Regions from separate parts of the Homo sapiens genome. Here region 1 is linked to region 2. Evidence: fine-mapped expression QTL. A gene starts in region 2. The other region holds a variant in brackets. All regions are shown on one strand. Distances are between the middles of the regions. Region 1 overlaps PMP22 (peripheral myelin protein 22). Region 2 holds the start of PMP22 (peripheral myelin protein 22).

Region 1 (5,000 bases), 35 kb after region 2:
TTTCAGGGTACATCTATTGCTTTACATGCAGACAATCTTGTAATAATATATTCCCTAAAACATCAGTCTCATGACAACAATCATATAAAGTGTGTATCCTCTCTTTGGCTTTGTAGATATCTAAGTTTACTGCTTATCACGGTTAAGCTTAGAGTCATTCACTTCTGAGATTCTACTAAGATGAAAGTCATACACATTAAGCTGTGTAGTTAGTCGCTGCACTTCTCTATACTGCCTCTTTCTATCCCTCTTGTTCAAGGATGGAATCTGGTATCTCCTCTTAGTCAGTGAAATCGGGGAGTAGCTGGTCCACTCAGCTCCTGAGGCATTTCTCATGCCAGATCTGGTTAGACAGCCCATTTGGGAGCCCTGCCTGCATGATGATAAGTGTTGTCCTGCCCTGCTAGCACTCTGTTAACACCTTTCTCTCTGCCAAGGTCATGTTTCCTTTTTTATAGCCCTGCCTTCATTAGATAAGTCAGACAGAGCCCAAGAGACAACTTCAGTATTTCTTAAAGACAAGAGTTAGCACTTTGGAGATGCAAGCCGTGGAAGAGTGGGGCAAGATAATTAAGGATCCTGGACCTCAAGGCAAATAAAGTGTGTCCCCAGCAGATCAAAACTGCTGTTTTCTGCAATCAACAATTAACCCGCAATGATTTCGCTCCTGACATGGCCATCTTTGCTGTCTTCTGAACTTCCTGTAGGTGGCAGGTCCTGGATGCTGTCCCATTTTGGTTCCAAGACTATTGTGTGGCTCTCTTGACAGGGGCCAGTCAAGTGGCAGTTTTCTCCTCTGAGTTGCAGGAGGACAGGCTTAACAGGGTGGTTCATGTGGCGTATTCCCACTTCTGCACTGTCTTCAAACAAAGTTGCAGTGTCCAGTAAAACAGCAGCCCAAATAGCAGTGAGGTTAGATGTAGGTGGCCGGGCGGTGGGGGGGCGCGGGTGCATTGGGAACTCTGGAACTGCATGAATCCCACACGGCATACTGGATTTATAATAGAGTCACTCAGAGCTTCTCAAAGACCCTGTTTTCAGGGAGGAAACAGACCAGGCTTTGTGCAGCTCCAGGCTGGGGTGCTGACATCACTGGACCCCTCCTTGTGGGGGGACGCTGTCTGTCACGTGAGCTGGGGCCATCAGTTTGAGCGTGGCTGCTCCACAGGGCCCAAGATGGAGGCTTTTCTTCTCTTTCCAACACCGAAGGGCTGCATTGGTGGGCCAGGGAGGGTGGCCTGACCCACCTGCATATCCAGTGCCCTTTAGCCTTCTTTGGGCTTCAAATGCAACCTTGGGGCACCCAGGGAAATGGAGCTTGCCTTTGATCATCTTCCCCCTCTGCAGCGTGGCTTCCCAGTCATACTGTCGGCTGCATCCTTATTCCTCACTTTCTTTTTCCCTCTCCACACATTTCTTTGTCTGTTTGGCAGTGCCCATAGGCATTGCTTGCTTCACCTGGTATGTGGCAACTCTGTTAGGGGGACCATAGGCCCCTGTGGTCTGCATGGAGCTTAATCCTTTTACCATGGCGTGACTCCAATAATGGTAAAATGTCACTTCACTTCCATTGGCTTTAGGTAATGCCACCACTCACTTGTAGAGTGGCATATAGATTTCCAGGGGTTTCCATACCCAACCACCCTTGGAAAGAGACAGGTAGGTTTTTCTTGCAGCCTGAATGCCTGCTGGCCATGTAGTGTGGCCTGGGAATTGGTGACAGTGAAAGAAAGAGAAATAGGGCAGAAAATGTAAAGAAAACCCTCAGGTATTAAGGCCTAGGTGGCCAAGATTGGAAATAGAGAGCAAGTTGTTTTCCTTGTTCCCATATTTTTGTGCTACCTCCTTTCAATTCTGGACCTGGAAGCAGATTTCCTTCCAGAGGTAGAAATGTTCTTCCTACCCAGCAATTGTCAGCATCCGGGGTGGCGGAGAGGGGGCCGCTCTGCCATGGACTCTCCGTCACCCAGCTTGTCCCTCTCCTTCCCCAGGTCTGTGCGTGATGAGTGCTGCGGCCATCTACACGGTGAGGCACCCGGAGTGGCATCTCAACTCGGATTACTCCTACGGTTTCGCCTACATCCTGGCCTGGGTGGCCTTCCCCCTGGCCCTTCTCAGCGGTGTCATCTATGTGATCTTGCGGAAACGCGAATGAGGCGCCCAGACGGTCTGTCTGAGGCTCTGAGCGTACATAGGGAAGGGAGGAAGGGAAAACAGAAAGCAGACAAAGAAAAAAGAGCTAGCCCAAAATCCCAAACTCAAACCAAACCAAACAGAAAGCAGTGGAGGTGGGGGTTGCTGTTGATTGAAGATGTATATAATATCTCCGGTTTATAAAACCTATTTATAACACTTTTTACATATATGTACATAGTATTGTTTGCTTTTTATGTTGACCATCAGCCTCGTGTTGAGCCTTAAAGAAGTAGCTAAGGAACTTTACATCCTAACAGTATAATCCAGCTCAGTATTTTTGTTTTGTTTTTTGTTTGTTTGTTTTGTTTTACCCAGAAATAAGATAACTCCATCTCGCCCCTTCCCTTTCATCTGAAAGAAGATACCTCCCTCCCAGTCCACCTCATTTAGAAAACCAAAGTGTGGGTAGAAACCCCAAATGTCCAAAAGCCCTTTTCTGGTGGGTGACCCAGTGCATCCAACAGAAACAGCCGCTGCCCGAACCTCTGTGTGAAGCTTTACGCGCACACGGACAAAATGCCCAAACTGGAGCCCT[T/C]GCAAAAACACGGCTTGTGGCATTGGCATACTTGCCCTTACAGGTGGAGTATCTTCGTCACACATCTAAATGAGAAATCAGTGACAACAAGTCTTTGAAATGGTGCTATGGATTTACCATTCCTTATTATCACTAATCATCTAAACAACTCACTGGAAATCCAATTAACAATTTTACAACATAAGATAGAATGGAGACCTGAATAATTCTGTGTAATATAAATGGTTTATAACTGCTTTTGTACCTAGCTAGGCTGCTATTATTACTATAATGAGTAAATCATAAAGCCTTCATCACTCCCACATTTTTCTTACGGTCGGAGCATCAGAACAAGCGTCTAGACTCCTTGGGACCGTGAGTTCCTAGAGCTTGGCTGGGTCTAGGCTGTTCTGTGCCTCCAAGGACTGTCTGGCAATGACTTGTATTGGCCACCAACTGTAGATGTATATATGGTGCCCTTCTGATGCTAAGACTCCAGACCTTTTGTTTTTGCTTTGCATTTTCTGATTTTATACCAACTGTGTGGACTAAGATGCATTAAAATAAACATCAGAGTAACTCACTGGTCTCTCTTGAGTTTTTGTGGGAACTTGGGTGTGGGTACAAGGTGCCTGTTGGAGCAGGATGAAGAGCTTCAGTGGAAAGCAAAGTTGAGCTGGAGATTTGGGTTACAAGATGGTGCTAAGGCACCAAAATCATAGCTGTTTTACAAGCTACAGGGAGCACATGATGCCTTCATGATGTCTGTGCAAAGGTTTGCTAATTGGAGACAGTTGGGAATTGCAGCTGAAATGGAGGCTGTAAATGGACTGGAAGGCACTTGAGTATTCATTTAGTTCAACCCTCTCTGGTGCTCTGTTGTTTGATGACCCACATGGAAAACATGGAGGCATGTCATGAGCTGCCCTGATATACTGGGAATGTTGGCAGAAGCATCTCAGATCCCTCACCCTGAGGTATGATATGGTGAAAGGTCTGAATGATGGTGACTTGAGGCCACACTTGCAGATAAAACATTGGTTGGCACCAACTAAGCTCCTAATGCCATCCTGAAGGAGAGAAAAGGCCACCATTGTCACCCAGCTCAGGGTTTCTGAGTTGTGTCTCATGCGTCCATATTTTTACCCGTCGACCTTTTGTTGTGTGTCTGCAAAATAACAAGCAAATGATGTGGTTGATAGTCCTTAATATTTATTGTGCAACTATTTTGAATTGGGTACCAAAGATAAAGAAGTAATGACATATATCTTAACATCGAAAGGTCACATTTTAGTGAGAGGTACAAGTAAACAAGTGACTATATTATAATAAGGTTAAGAGCATAGAAATGAGAGCCTGGGTTTGAGCCTGTCCTTTGCTGCTTACCAGCCATAGGGGCCTGAAAAGGTTACGTAAACACTAAGATTCAGTTTTCTCATCTATAAAATGGGGATGCCAATAACAAGGGTATAGGGCTGAGGGGATTTCAAGGAAGTTATATGGATAAAGTGTTCAGCATAGTGACTAGTACCTAGAAAGACTCTATAGATTAGAGTGGTTATCACATATGTTACAACAGAGGTATATTTGAAAGAGCATGTAGGAGAGACATTGACTGTTATGCAGGATTCTCAGTATCAGTCTGCACACTGGAATCTCCCATGCAGGAATTCCCATTAGAGATTTGGATTCCCTGTTTCCATGATGGGACCCACCCATCATGGTTTAAAGAACACTTCTGGTGATTACAGCATGCAACTGGGGATGACACCTCTGAGCTAGTGCAGGAGGTCTCATACTTCAACATGCTAGTGAATCACCTGGGAATCTGATAGCATGCAGATTCTGAAACTTTAGGCCCAGGTGGGGATTGAGATTCTGCATTTCCAATTAGTGCCTGGGTGAGGTGGATGCTGCTTGTCCACCGACCACACTTTGAGTAGCAAGGGCCTAGCATAAAGCCACCTTCAGGTACCTTGTGCTCTTCTGTCCTTGGGTGTCTGTGACGGAAGGACTTCTCTTTTCTGAGGTTTTCAGTAGTGACTGCTACTCTGCTTTTGACTCAGATAGTTTTAAGGTGGCACAGGTGGCCATGAGATGCATGTGAGATTAAGAAAACTAGGAATTTTATTTCACGAGCTGGTACTTTGAAAACATACACTTTTATTTCATAAACTTTTCTAACATTTCATTAAAAATTAATAGGGATAAGAATAAAGAAGAAAAGCAAAAACGGCCCCTAAATCTCCCTACCCAGGTAACACTCTTGGCATTTAAAAAAAAACCATAT
Region 2 (5,000 bases):
ATAAAGTGCGGAAGGGTTTCCTCCCTCTTCAAGAGTCTGCTGGGATTCCACTGTCATGGACAACATTTCATTCTTATGAAATTAAAATCTCACCTACAGGCAGGATTCTGCCAGTGCTTATGCTATACAGACATATGGAATGCAAATGTCCTCGGAGGAGCACACAGCCTTGTTGGCAGGATGAGACAGGATTCTTGAAAGCTGTACTAAATGTGACTGGTGCTGAAAAAAAAATGGATGTCTTAGGATATGTTCTTGCTTTTTAATGGAAAAAGAAACGTGAATGCATAAATATGTATAATGTGAGAATATCTTTCATACAAATAGGACATTAAATGATAGTGTCTATGGAAGCATGATGAGAAGATATGCTAGGAACGTGCTGGGCACAATTAGGGGCACGGTAGAATGTGAGATAGTCCAGGCTGTGAGTACGGGATCTGTAGCCAGAATGCCTGGTTGGAATCCAGCCTCTGTCATTTCTTTGCAGTGTGTCTTGAGAAAGTGACTGAACATCTCGCTGTGCCTCAGTTTCTCCCTCTTCTAAAAGAGGATGATGGGGTGCCTATTTCATACGGTTGTGAGGATTAAGTGATTTGATGCATATAAAATATTCAAGATGGTGCCTGGCATATGCTAAACACGAAGTAAATATAACCTATTATCATCATTATCAAGGACTTGCGGATAACTGATGCTACTGAGCCGATGGAGCGTGGTGTAGCAGAACAGCTCAGGTGCTAGAAATAGCCAGTCTCATTGACTCAACTGTGTTTCCTCAGAGAATCCCGATTCTCATTTTTCCTATCTGTAAATGGAAGGGAGGATAGCAAATAATAATAAATGTTATTTGGTGACTATTCTATGTGTTTATTTTGCAAGAGGCTCAGTGGGATATAGCCTACAGCTTTGCAGAGACATTGCTCAACACAGATGCATGGGATAGGGGTCCCATTTGGCTGAGAAAAGGTTATTGGAAATGGGAGACGAGGAAGGAGTTTTCCTCACCTGACTCTGGGAAGGGAAGAGAGTCTGGCCCAGATGGGTAAAGACAAGTGTGTTGGCATCTGGTAGACAGGGCCAGTGGCACACAACAGTGAACAGCTCTACTGCTGACAGCCAACAGGGACTTCGGGGTTTGGCTGCTGGAGATGGAGGACCTGGGCAAAAGAGACGTGAGGCCAAGAGAGCAGGTCTCAGAATGTGGAGCTCATGGAAGGAGAGAGGGAGGGCTAATCAGACTGCTCCTATCTGGCCAGAAGCCATGCCCCACACTCACCAGGCCCTACCCCTTTTCCTCTGAATCTTTAGCTCTTAGATCAGAAATAATCTTACGTGTCTTCAGGCTTGATCCTGGCCTGACGGACAGCAGCCTCTGTCGTGTAGCCTTTGGAGCTGATCATGGCAGTACCCAGGAAAAGACTGTCTGGAGAGGCTGCAAAAACCATGCTCACTGTTCCCAGTCCCCGTACAGACCATGTCAGAGGAGGACTGAGGGAGGCTCCTCTCTCTCTCTCTCTGTCACACACACGCACACGCGCACACACACACACACAGATACACGCGCACACACACACACCGTTTTGCCTGGCAGAACAGACTTATAACTTGCATAATACTGCAGCAGCCCACACTGTACCTCATCTCCATTTGGGTTCCACAACAGAAGGGAGCTGGAAGGAAATCAGCGACAATCTAACTCCACATGACAACCTGGCTGGACAACGAAACATCCAGCGGGGAGAAAGACACTGGAAATTACCCATACCTGAGCCCCATCCCAAAACACCTGAGTCAGCTTCTCTGACCATGGCCCAGGCTAGGTCATTTGCAAAGCTCTTGAGTGATTCTAAAGAACCACTGCTGTGAAAAATAAAAATGATTTCAGCAAAGAGAGAAAGGTGAAACTATTTTATTGGCACTGGCTGTGATGCTGGCTGTGAGCAGATGCTGGCTGTGGGCAGAACAGGGGAGAGGGCCATTGAGAGGCCCTTGTGACTGGAGAGTCCAATCAAACGTAAAGTGTGTGACAGGGAGGGACTCCTCCAAATTCTGCAGGTCTCTCCAGACTGGGGATCCCTAACACAAGAGGAAGTCTTATGCCCCAAGTGCCAGAATTCCAGGAAACTCATGCAATGAAACCAGTCCTCTTGTGTCAGAGTTTGCAGCTAGAAGCGGTTCAAGGGATGGAGGACTCTCTGGGAGCTGGAGTGGTACGCTGCAAAGAACCTAAATATGCCATAACTTCCTTTACTTCCCTCTCCAAGAATTTCCAATTGCTCTTCCAGCCTATTCTGCCTGACAGGTTAGAAAGTTTTCAATAGTTTTCAATAGAGGTTCGTTTACTTGCATTGAATTATCTCATGAAGGTCAGCTTGATTCGGGCACATTAAAGACAGAGTCGGAAGAACACATTTCCCTAAGTTTTATTCTAATGTACAACACATGTGATCATTTGCGATGGGGTCTAGGCAGACAAGGCAGGTAACAGGGAGTCCTTCCAACCAGGGGTTGGAACAAAGGAGGCTTGATTTGGTGACTCTTGAGACATTTGGCTCACTGCTGTGATGCTGTGAGAGATTAGCTGTGCAATGTTTGGGCTCCTTAAAAGGAAGTTTATTTAAAATAAAACTTACCTGCACGTATGTAACACTGTAGACACAGATCCTTCCCACAGTATATTTAATCTCTGCAGAATTCACTGGGAGGGGAGGGGAGCCAGTGGGACCTCTTGGCTATTACACAGGTTGGCACTTCCAGAGAGAACAGTCTTGGCATCACAGGCTTCAGGCATACTCAAAGCTCTTCTCCCTTCTGATTCCAGTTTCTCCATGCCCTGCAGGGCCTCTTGGGATTATTGTATTCTGGAAAGCAAACAAAGTTGGACACTGTCTCTTTAAATAATAGAGGCTGAGAACCTCTCAGGCCACCATGACATATCCCAGCATTGGACCAGCCCCTGAATAAACTGGAAAGACGCCTGGTCTGGCTTCAGTTACAGGGAGCACCACCAGGGAACATCTCGGGGAGCCTGGTTGGAAGCTGCAGGCTTAGTCTGTCGGCTGCGGGTCTCTGACTGCCCTGTGGGGAGGGTCTTGCCTTAACATCCCTTGCATTTGGCTGCAAAGAAATCTGCTTGGAAGAAGGGGTTACGCTGTTTGGCCGGGTGAGTTTTATTGGCAAACTGTGCCTCTGGGTGATGTGTGCCTATGCTTTACAAGAATTGCCTAATTTCCCACCCCCTGCAAGCCGCAAATGAAAAGGATTGCAGGAGAGATGGTGCATTTGTGTTGGAATTGACTGGAGATTCAGAGGGCTTTTTATATCCTTGGTTAAAAGGTGGATATATACTCTGGCTGGGGAGGTGGGGGGCCATCTGAGAGCATCTAGAAACCCTAATGCATCCAGATTGAAAGGAAGAAAGGAATCTAGATGCTTTTTCCCCCATGGAAAATAGCTGTGCACACACAGCTGGCAGGTGGCCTTGGTAAGCAGGTTAGGGAGAAGCTGCCACCTGTGGCAGAGCCTTGGCCAGCCGGGCTCTGGGTGTGGCAAGCCTGGTCAGCAGGCACTGAGTAGCACTTCCTCTGCCACCATTGAGAACCAGGCAGGAGGCCAGAGGCAGTGAGGGACAGATGGGTTGGGTTTACCTGTCTGGCAGTATATGGTGTGGCTGTGACCTGGGTGGTTATTGATTAAACTATTGGGTTCAAAAGAAAGGAAGAAGCGAGCTGTAGCACCCAATATATGCACTTTTCTGTATGTGTATTAGACTTTATTAAAAAGTTTATTTGAAAATCACAAAGGAAGGGAAAGAAAACCCTGAGTTAGATATGCTCATATTTCTAAAGTGCTTACTTAGAACAGTCCTGAGTATGTTGTGATCACATAAGTGTTGGTTAAATAAATAAATGTCCAAATGGCATAAAACAAAGTAATAATTTCTAGAGCAAATCTAACTTATAAAATGACCTGTGGAGGAAAGAAAACACTGCCATGTCTTTAGACTTTTTTTTCTACTTGCATATGCACTTTCATTTATAAATCTTTATCTATCTATCTATATCTATCTATCTATCTATCTATCTACCTACCTACCTACCTACCTATCAGAGTTACAAGCTACTTTAGTGCAGAGGTGGTCAGGTCTTCCCTGAAAGGTTGATGTGAGAGTTAAATGTGATATAATAATAGTGGTGGCAATTTGGGCACTGGGCCCTTATTATGTTGCAGACACGATGTTAACTGCTTTGTACATATTGTCTCCTTCAATCACCACCATAAACCTTTAAAGCAGGCATTACTATTTCCTTTTGCACCTGAGAAAACTGAAGCTCAGTGAACTTGAGAAATTGCCCAAATTCACAACAAAAGTAAGCAGGGTGATTAGGTTTGTTGGAGCCCAGAGCCAGAGTGCCTAACCACTGCACCATACTGCCTCTCACAGACCATGCATATAAAGTCCAGGCAAAGTGCTTGGCATATAACGGGCACTGTAAATGCAGTGTTTACAAGTACACTTCATTTTAATCTGATAACACGATAGTTTTAAAAAGATCATTGTTTGAAGATCTTTTTCAAATTTATTTTTACTTACCGTAAGAATATACAATTAGCTAAAATAGCAGCTCCTTTCAAATCGTAAAATAATATAGAATTATTTGAATCATTGAGAGTGATGAGCTTCTATGACACAGTACACTAGAGGTAGGGAAGTGTGTGTGTGTGTGTGTGTGCGCGCGCGTGCGTGAACTGCTGCATTTTCAGGCAGAAACCTTTAACATCCACATTCCTGCTCCCTGTCCCGTGCCTCAAGGCTGGCCTGCGCACGGGAGTCTCAGTTGGGCGCGCCTCTGCCAAGCCGAGACTGAAGGGGGCTAGCCTCTCTCCCTGTAACGCTGGGCGGGCCACGTTAGGAGGCTATGAATCAGCTGATTTCCTTGGCTGCTCCAACCCCACCTCAAATGGCCACCTCGCACCCGCCCGCCAAACCCCATGGC

Evidence for each region. PIP is the estimated chance that this variant, and not a neighbour inherited with it, causes the effect.
Region 1: its variant is fine-mapped to the expression of PMP22 in prefrontal cortex (CommonMind, PIP 0.95).

What each region holds. Positions count from the first base shown.
Region 1 is chr17:15,228,072-15,233,071 of GRCh38, reverse strand. PMP22 (peripheral myelin protein 22) reads left to right here. Exons shown (of 5, transcript NM_000304.4): 5 at 1,992-3,293. The coding sequence ends at 2,155. Among named protein-coding and RNA genes, the nearest start is that of MIR4731, 21 kb to the left of the region's middle. The variant T/C (reference allele first, on the strand shown) is at 2,732.
Region 2 is chr17:15,263,320-15,268,319 of GRCh38, reverse strand. PMP22 (peripheral myelin protein 22) reads left to right here and starts at 2,994. Exons shown (of 5, transcript NM_000304.4): 1 at 2,994-3,166. LOC124903931 (a long non-coding RNA gene) reads right to left here. Exons shown (of 2, transcript XR_007065632.1): 2 at 2,411-2,864.